3 separate regions of the Homo sapiens genome follow, and all the other regions are linked to region 1. Evidence: fine-mapped QTL for protein levels in blood plasma. A gene starts in region 1. Each other region holds a variant in brackets. All regions are shown on one strand. Distances are between the middles of the regions. Region 1 holds the start of PDCD1 (programmed cell death 1). Region 2 holds the start of LOC124905350 (a long non-coding RNA gene). Region 3 has its middle 15 kb from the start of NEU4.

The links. PIP is the posterior inclusion probability: the model's chance that the variant is causal. Protein levels are from antibody-based Olink assays in UK Biobank. Linkage for the fine-mapping came from a reference panel and not from the study's own genotypes, which makes the PIPs less certain.
Region 2: its variant is fine-mapped to the plasma level of the PDCD1 protein (UK Biobank, PIP above 0.99).
Region 3: its variant is fine-mapped to the plasma level of the PDCD1 protein (UK Biobank, PIP above 0.99).

Annotation. Positions count from the first base shown.
Region 1 is chr2:241,857,786-241,860,450 of GRCh38, reverse strand. PDCD1 (programmed cell death 1) reads left to right here and starts at 1,557. Exons shown (of 5, transcript NM_005018.3): 1 at 1,557-1,688. The coding sequence starts at 1,613. It overlaps LOC124908032 (a long non-coding RNA gene), which reads right to left and starts at 1,379. Exons shown (of 2, transcript XR_007088436.1): 1 at 374-1,379. RefSeq lists an enhancer at 1,389-2,351.
Region 2 is chr2:241,844,035-241,846,699 of GRCh38, reverse strand. It overlaps LOC124905350 (a long non-coding RNA gene), which reads right to left and starts at 2,533. Exons shown (of 2, transcript XR_007088410.1): 1 at 2,222-2,533; 2 at 220-2,135. The variant G/A (reference allele first, on the strand shown) is at 1,525.
Region 3 is chr2:241,822,415-241,825,079 of GRCh38, reverse strand. No RefSeq gene overlaps it. Among named protein-coding and RNA genes, the nearest start is that of NEU4, 15 kb to the right of the region's middle. The variant GAC/C (reference allele first, on the strand shown) is at 1,522.

The DNA.
Region 1 (2,665 bases):
ACTGCTGCCCTGGAACAGAGACAGCATTCAACAGAGGTTGGAACAAGGCTCTACAGGGCTGGGGGCAGAGGGAGGTTCTGTCCAGAATCTGCCTTCAGGACAAGTACAGCCAGCAGGGGCAGCTTAGCCACTTATCCACTGCCTGGGCGAGGCACAGGGCTATGGAGGCACCTACCAACCAACAGTTCTCCAGCCCCAGAGCCCCAGCCCCTGAGGCACAAGGGTGGGTGTGCCAGGAGACAGTTGCTGCGGGCCACCTTAGCTGTCTGGCAGCACAGTGGGTGCTGCCAGGCTCCCTGGGGGCCCCCCGCCAAGCCCACCTGGCCAGCTGGGCCCCCCCCACCTCCCCACCAAGCCACCCACACAGCCTCACATCTCTGAGACCCGGGAGTGGCCCTTTGTTCATAAACGAGAGCTTCCTCGCCGTGGCCGCGCCTCGCAGACATCATCTTTGATGCTCTTTTTCCACTGTTTCGGTGCTTTAATGTTTTCCCTTCAGAGCCGGGCCGAGTGTCTCTCGGAGCCAGGCAGCCGCGCCAGCTGTCAGGCGGTTTCTAGCCTCGCTTCGGTTATTTTAAGCTGATGAGCCTGACGCATCTCATCACTAATATCAGCAGTTTCATTTCTCCTGTTTTCCATTCGCTGTAATAAAATGCTCAGCACAGAATACAAGGAGATAAGCAAGCCATTTCACAAACGCCGGGCCGCCAGCCAGGCCCAGGCACTGGACCCCCTGAACCACCCCACCCTGGCACGAGTGGGCTGGAGGGCAGGGCCCCGGGGAAGAAGGTCAAGGCTGGAAGGGGAGGTCAGCCTCACAGCCAGCCCCTGCCACCGCCCCAGCCCCCCCGTCAGGCTGTTGCAGGCATCACACGGTGGAAAGATCTGGAACTGTGGCCATGGTGTGAGGCCATCCACAAGGTGGAAGCTTTGAGGGGGAGCCGATTAGCCATGGACAGTTGTCATTCAGTAGGGTCACCTGTGCCCCAGCGAAGGGGGATGGGCCGGGAAGGCAGAGGCCAGGCACCTGCCCCCAGCAGGGGCAGAGGCTGTGGGCAGCCGGGAGGCTCCCAGAGGCTCCGACAGAATGGGAGTGGGGTTGAGCCCACCCCTCACTGCAGCCCAGGAACCTGAGCCCAGAGGGGGCCACCCACCTTCCCCAGGCAGGGAGGCCCGGCCCCCAGGGAGATGGGGGGGATGGGGGAGGAGAAGGGCCTGCCCCCACCCGGCAGCCTCAGGAGGGGCAGCTCGGGCGGGATATGGAAAGAGGCCACAGCAGTGAGCAGAGACACAGAGGAGGAAGGGGCCCTGAGCTGGGGAGACCCCCACGGGGTAGGGCGTGGGGGCCACGGGCCCACCTCCTCCCCATCTCCTCTGTCTCCCTGTCTCTGTCTCTCTCTCCCTCCCCCACCCTCTCCCCAGTCCTACCCCCTCCTCACCCCTCCTCCCCCAGCACTGCCTCTGTCACTCTCGCCCACGTGGATGTGGAGGAAGAGGGGGCGGGAGCAAGGGGCGGGCACCCTCCCTTCAACCTGACCTGGGACAGTTTCCCTTCCGCTCACCTCCGCCTGAGCAGTGGAGAAGGCGGCACTCTGGTGGGGCTGCTCCAGGCATGCAGATCCCACAGGCGCCCTGGCCAGTCGTCTGGGCGGTGCTACAACTGGGCTGGCGGCCAGGATGGTTCTTAGGTAGGTGGGGTCGGCGGTCAGGTGTCCCAGAGCCAGGGGTCTGGAGGGACCTTCCACCCTCAGTCCCTGGCAGGTCGGGGGGTGCTGAGGCGGGCCTGGCCCTGGCAGCCCAGGGGTCCCGGAGCGAGGGGTCTGGAGGGACCTTTCACTCTCAGTCCCTGGCAGGTCGGGGGGTGCTGTGGCAGGCCCAGCCTTGGCCCCCAGCTCTGCCCCTTACCCTGAGCTGTGTGGCTTTGGGCAGCTCGAACTCCTGGGTTCCTCTCTGGGCCCCAACTCCTCCCCTGGCCCAAGTCCCCTCTTTGCTCCTGGGCAGGCAGGACCTCTGTCCCCTCTCAGCCGGTCCTTGGGGCTGCGTGTTTCTGTAGAATGACGGGTCAGGCTGGCCAGAACCCCAAACCTTGGCCGTGGGGAGTCTGCGTGGCGGCTCTGCCTTGCCCAGGCATCCTTGGTCCTCACTCGAGTTTTCCTAAGGATGGGATGAGCCCCATGTGGGACTAACCTTGGCTTTACGACGTCAAAGTTTAGATGAGCTGGTGATATTTTTCTCATTATATCCAAAGTGTACCTGTTCGAGTGAGGACAGTTCTTCTGTCTCCAGGATCCCTCCTGGGTGGGGATTGTGCCCGCCTGGGTCTCTGCCCAGATTCCAGGGCTCTCCCCGAGCCCTGTTCAGACCATCCGTGGGGGAGGCCTTGGCCTCACTCTCCCGGATCGAGGAGAGAGGGAGCCTCTTCCTGGGCTGCCCGTGACCCTGGGCCCTCTGTGTACACTGTGACCACAGCCCGCTCCTGGACCCTCTGTGCCCGGCTGGCCCTCTGTGCCCAGCCAGCCTGCACCTGGGGATGCCAAGGCCTGGGGAGGGTGGTTTCACCCAGGCCAAGCCTAAGACAGTCCCTCTGGGCCCTGCTGGGTACCGGGGTGTGACACCACTGGGAGGACAAGATGAGGGGCACCCCTGGGGCCGCCCTGACACCCCC
Region 2 (2,665 bases), 14 kb after region 1:
AATTCACGGCTCTCATACACCCATTCACCCCATTCACAGCACAGTGCGCTAGGAGACGGAGTGGCGGGCGATGTTTCATCTAGGACAGCAAGAGAGAAGATGCTCCCGGCATAAACCTAGCCAGAAACGTGGGAAAGCTGCCGCAGAGGCTGAACTCAATCAAAGGCACCCTGACCCCCGGGCCCCGAAGAGGCGCCACAGCTGCAAACATGCACGTTCTTCCGATACAATTTGTAAATTTAATACGATCCCAGTAAAAACCACAGTTCTGGAACTACCATGCTCATATGGAAAAATTAACAAGCAAGTAACAGCCAAAAAAACCATGAAAAGAAAGTGAAAGAGGACCAGCTTTATGAGCTCAGGGGAAACTTACTGTAATGAAAACAGGGTGGGATAAGCACCAGAAGACACAGGAACAGGCCCAGTCCCTGCGACCCAAATCAGTGAGGGGAAAAACGACTTTTTAACCAACTGCCCAGGGATAGGGATAGCCATCTGGAAAAGTATTAAGTTAGACTCATATGCACAAAATCCCAAATGCAGCAGAGAGAAAAGCATACAAAAAGAACCCTGGCCGCGCGTGGTGGCTCACGCCTGTGATCCCAGCACTTTGGGAGGTCGAGGCGGGTGGATCACAAGGTCAGGAGATTGAGACCATCCTGGCTAACACGGTGAAACCCTGTCTCTACTAAAAACACAAAAAATTAGCCGGGCATGGTGGCGGGCACCTGTGGTCCCAGCTACTCGGGAGGCTGAGGCAGGAGAATGGCGTGAACCCGGGAGGCGGAGCTTGCAGTGAGCCGAGATCATGCCACTGCACTCCAGCCTGGGCGACACAGCAAGACTCCGTCTCAAAAAAGAAAAAAAAAGGAACCCTACAAGAAACAAGAAACCGTGGGTGCATTCTTGCAGTGTGGGAGGGGAAGGCATTCCCAATGAATAAAGGACATCAGGCAACAATTAAAGAGAAGACTGATACACTGAACTCCATATATTGGAAAACAAAAAACTTTAGCTTGGCAAAAAAAATCATAAACAAACTGAGGGAAAATGTTTGCACCACCACAAAAGAGCGAATATGCCAGTCGTAGGAAGATCTAAGAGTCTGGAAAAAGCAAGGTCAAAAATACACGAGAAAGTGCAGGAGACATAACCCAACAGCTCAGAGAAAATGTGTGTGCGTGAGCCTGTGTGTGCACGTGTCTACACGTGTGTAGACATATGTGTGCATACAAATGTGTGTATGTACATACACAGGGGTATGTGTGTGGGTGTGTGTGTACAGGTGTGCGGACGTGTGTATCTACAATATATGTATATACGGCAGTGCCTGCGTGCATACCCATATCCCTTAAACAATGAAAGGTTGTTCAGGTTCTCTCAACAAAAATACAAGTTGAAACTACATCCACCAGGCTGACAGAGCTCTGACAACGGTGCGGCTGTTGGCGAGGCAGCAGGGAGCAGGCCTGAGGGGCTGGCGGGGAAGCCGAGCTGGAGACGCACCGGTGCTGTCTGGTA[G/A]GCGGTGGGCACTTGCCCTTTGCCCCCTCAACCCCCATCCTCGTCGAAACACTTCCCAGAGGTCACCGGCAAACATGTGCAGACGCAGAGCCCACGAGCTCACGGCGCTGGCTCGGCAACGGCAAAGCCGTCCAAAGCCGGCCGGGGGCTTGAGCCCGCCCCGGAGCCTCCATCAGCTGAGAGCTGGGGCCGCGGGAGCAGGGAGGAGGCTCAGGGCTCCCCACAGAGGGTCAGGTCACTCAAGACCATGAGGGGACACACGCGCAGGACAGAACAACTCGCTGTCCCCAACTTGCTGTCGTGTGAAAATGACACGGCAGCAGTCTGAGCATCAAACAATGCCAAATTAAAATTAAAAACCTAACTGAGGCTTGGCACGGTGGCACTTTGGGAGGCCGAGGCGGGAGGGTCGCTTGAGCCCAGGAGTTTGAGACCAGCCTGGGCAGCAAAGTGAGATCCTGTCTCTAAGGAAAAATTTTAAAATTAGCCAGGTGCGGTGGTCCCAGCTCCTCGGGAGGCTGAGGCGGGAGGATCCCTGGAGTCCCGGAGGTGGAGGCCGCAGTGAGCCACGATGGTGCCACTGACTCCAGCCTGGGCGACAGAGCAAGACCCTGTCAAAAAAAAAAAAAAAAAAAGCCTAATTGATTGACACACTTTGAGTACGTTAAAAAGAACATGAGCTCAGATCGATACTCACAAAAAGAGACAAGGCGGGCGGGGAGGGAGGAAGCGGTCGCTGTCCCCGGGCGTCCGCGGTGTGTTGGCGGCTGAGAGACCGCGGCGCAGTCAGCACTTCGCCTCCCGCCTTCCCGTCAGGCCGCCCCGCGCCGCCGCGCACTCACTTTTTCCGTCCCCGGCTGGCCCCGGGCCTGTGTCGCCGCCGGGCTGCGGCTGCGCTCCCGCCCCACCCACGCGCCCCAGGCGGGTCGGCCCGGCCTCGCACAGCAGCTGCGGCGGCTTCAGGAGCGCCCTGGGTGTGGCCGGGCCTCGGGGCTCCCCGGGGGACAGTGCCGGGAGGAGGCCGGGGCGCGTGGGACCCGGAGCGAGAGAGGCGCGGCCCCGCCCCGTGTCCCAGGCCCCTGAGCCCGGCCAGCTCCACCCACGCCCGCGCCCCCGCGCCCCCGCGCCCCCGCGCCCCCGA
Region 3 (2,665 bases), 35 kb after region 1:
TAAGGTCAGGAGTTTGAGACCAGTCTGACCAACGTGGTGAAACCCTGTCTCTACTAAAACTACAAAAAATTAGCTGGGCATAGTGGTGCGTGCCTGTAATCCCAGCTACTCAGGAGGCTGAGGCAGGAGAATCACTTGAACCTAAGAGGTGAAGATTGCAGTGAGCAGAGATCACGCCACTGCACTCCAGCCTGGGCGACAGAGTGAGACTTCATCTCAAAAAAAAAAAAAAAAGAAGAAGAATGAGGCTGGGCACAGTGGCTCACACCTGTAATCCCAGCACTTTGGGAGGCTGAGGCAGGCGGATTACCTGAGGTCAGGAGTTTGAGACCAGCCTGGCCAACATGGTGAAACCCCATCTCTACTAAAAATACAAAAATTAGCCAGGCGTAGTGGCAGATGCCTGTAATCCCAGCTACTCAGGAGGCTACAGCAGGAGAATCGCTTGAGCCCGGGAGGCCGAGGTTGCAGTGAGCAGATATCACAACACGGCACTCCAGCCTGGAAGACAGAGACTCTATCTCAAAAAAAAAAAAAGAAGAAGAAGAAGAAGTAGTCAGGATTCAAGTATTGAAAGATGTCGATGTCATTGGTCAAGCTCCCAGGGTGGGGGTTTGCAGGAGGGAAGCTGGCTGGGGATGCCTTGGGAACCTGAAGAAGCAGGAACAGCTGAGCACGAGGGTCAGACAACGCCGGGGGCCGAAGCCCCGGGCTGAAGGGACCGGGCCTGGTCCCCGCATCGCTGTGCAGTGATAGCAGCTGACGGTCTCGCTTTGGGAGAAACGGGAGATAGATACACACACACTGACATTTACATTTCACTTGTGTGCGTTCGGGGAAAGCTGCGGAATGAATGGGACGGAACGACACTCTGGTCTGAGCAGGTAAAGCAGGTGCTTGGGGCCACGAGAACTTTTTTAATCACATCAAGTGGAACACGCTTGAGACAACGGTTTCGGAAGCCACGCAGGTGCGCTGCGAGATCGTTTCTACCACCTGAGAACCGTCAACAACAGAGGACTTGCCGGGCCTTGATCTCCACATCTGGAAAACAGACACGTTCTCCACCCCGCGGGCCTTTATTTCATACTAAACGGAACGACGCGCTTGAAGCACGTGGCGTGGAGCGAGCCTTCTGCGCATGCGCAAATGCTTCCTCCTCGCCCCTCTGCGCACGCGGCAGGAGCAGAAAGTCAGACAAAGAGAACGTCGTGGAGAAGAACACAAAGGGAGACAGAGACACAGAGAAAGAGAGAGACAGAGACACAGGGAGACAGAGACACAGAGAGAGACACAGAGACACAGAGAGAGACACAGAGACACGACAGAGACACAGAGTCAGAGACAGAGAGACAGAGATACAGAGACAGAGAGACACAGAGACAGAGACACAGAGAAAGAGAGAGACAGAGACACAGGGAGACAGAGACACAGAGAGAGACACAGAGACACAGAGAGAGACACAGAGAGACAGAGACACAGAGTCAGAGACAGAGAGACAGAGATACAGAGACAGAGAGA[GAC/C]ACAGAGACAGAGACACAGAGAAAGAGAGAGACAGAGACACAGGGAGACAGAGACACAGAGAGAGACACAGAGACACAGAGAGAGACACAGAGAGACAGAGACACAGAGTCAGAGACAGAGAGACAGAGATACAGAGACAGAGAGAGACACAGAGACAGAGACACAGAGAAAGAGAGAGACAGAGACACAGGGAGACAGAGACACAGAGAAAGAGAGAGACAGAGACACAGAGAGAGAGACAGAGACACAGGGAGACAGAGACACAGAGACAGAGACACAGAGACAGACACACAGAGACAGACACACAGAGAGACAGAGACACAGAGTCAGAGACAGAGAGACAGAGACACAGAGACAGAGACACAGAGAAAGAGAGACAGAGACACAGAGACAGACTCAGACACAGAGAGAGACAGAGACACGGAGTCAGAGACATAGAGAGACAGAGATACAGAGTCAGAGACAGAGACACAGAGACAGAGACACAGAGAGAGACAGGGACAGAAAGCGTCAGAGACACAAAGAGACAGAGACAGACTCAGAGACAGAGAAAGAGAGACAGAGACACAGAGACAGACTCAGAGACACAGAGAAGAGACACGGAGTCAGAGAGACAGAGACACAGAGTCAGAGACACAGAGAGACAGAGACACAGAGTCAGAGACACAGACAGACACAGAGTCAGAGACACAGAGAGACAGAGACACAGAGTCAGAGACACAGAGGGAGACAGAGTCACGGAAAGAGACAGACACAAACACAAAGAGAGACAGCCCAAGACACAGAGACAGAGAGAGACACAAACACAAAGAGAAACAGAGACAGACACAGAGACAGAGAGACAAGGACAGAGAAAGGATGGGGGAGGGAGAGAGGGAGCAAGAGAGTAACTCCCAGCTGATTAAACACAGCAAAGAGAGAATTCGTGAACTAGAAAAAAAAAAAAGCCAAGGAAAACCAACCAGAATGCAGCACAGACACGAACGAGAAGGAGAGTGCACAGCAGAGGGCCATGCGGATGGTGAGGGGTCCCACACCTGCGTCCTGGAGCCCAGAAGGCGGGAGCAGGGTGGGACCCTGGTGGCCACACAGCTGTTTCCCGAGGCTGCATAGCAAATCACACAGACCTGGAGGTTGAAAC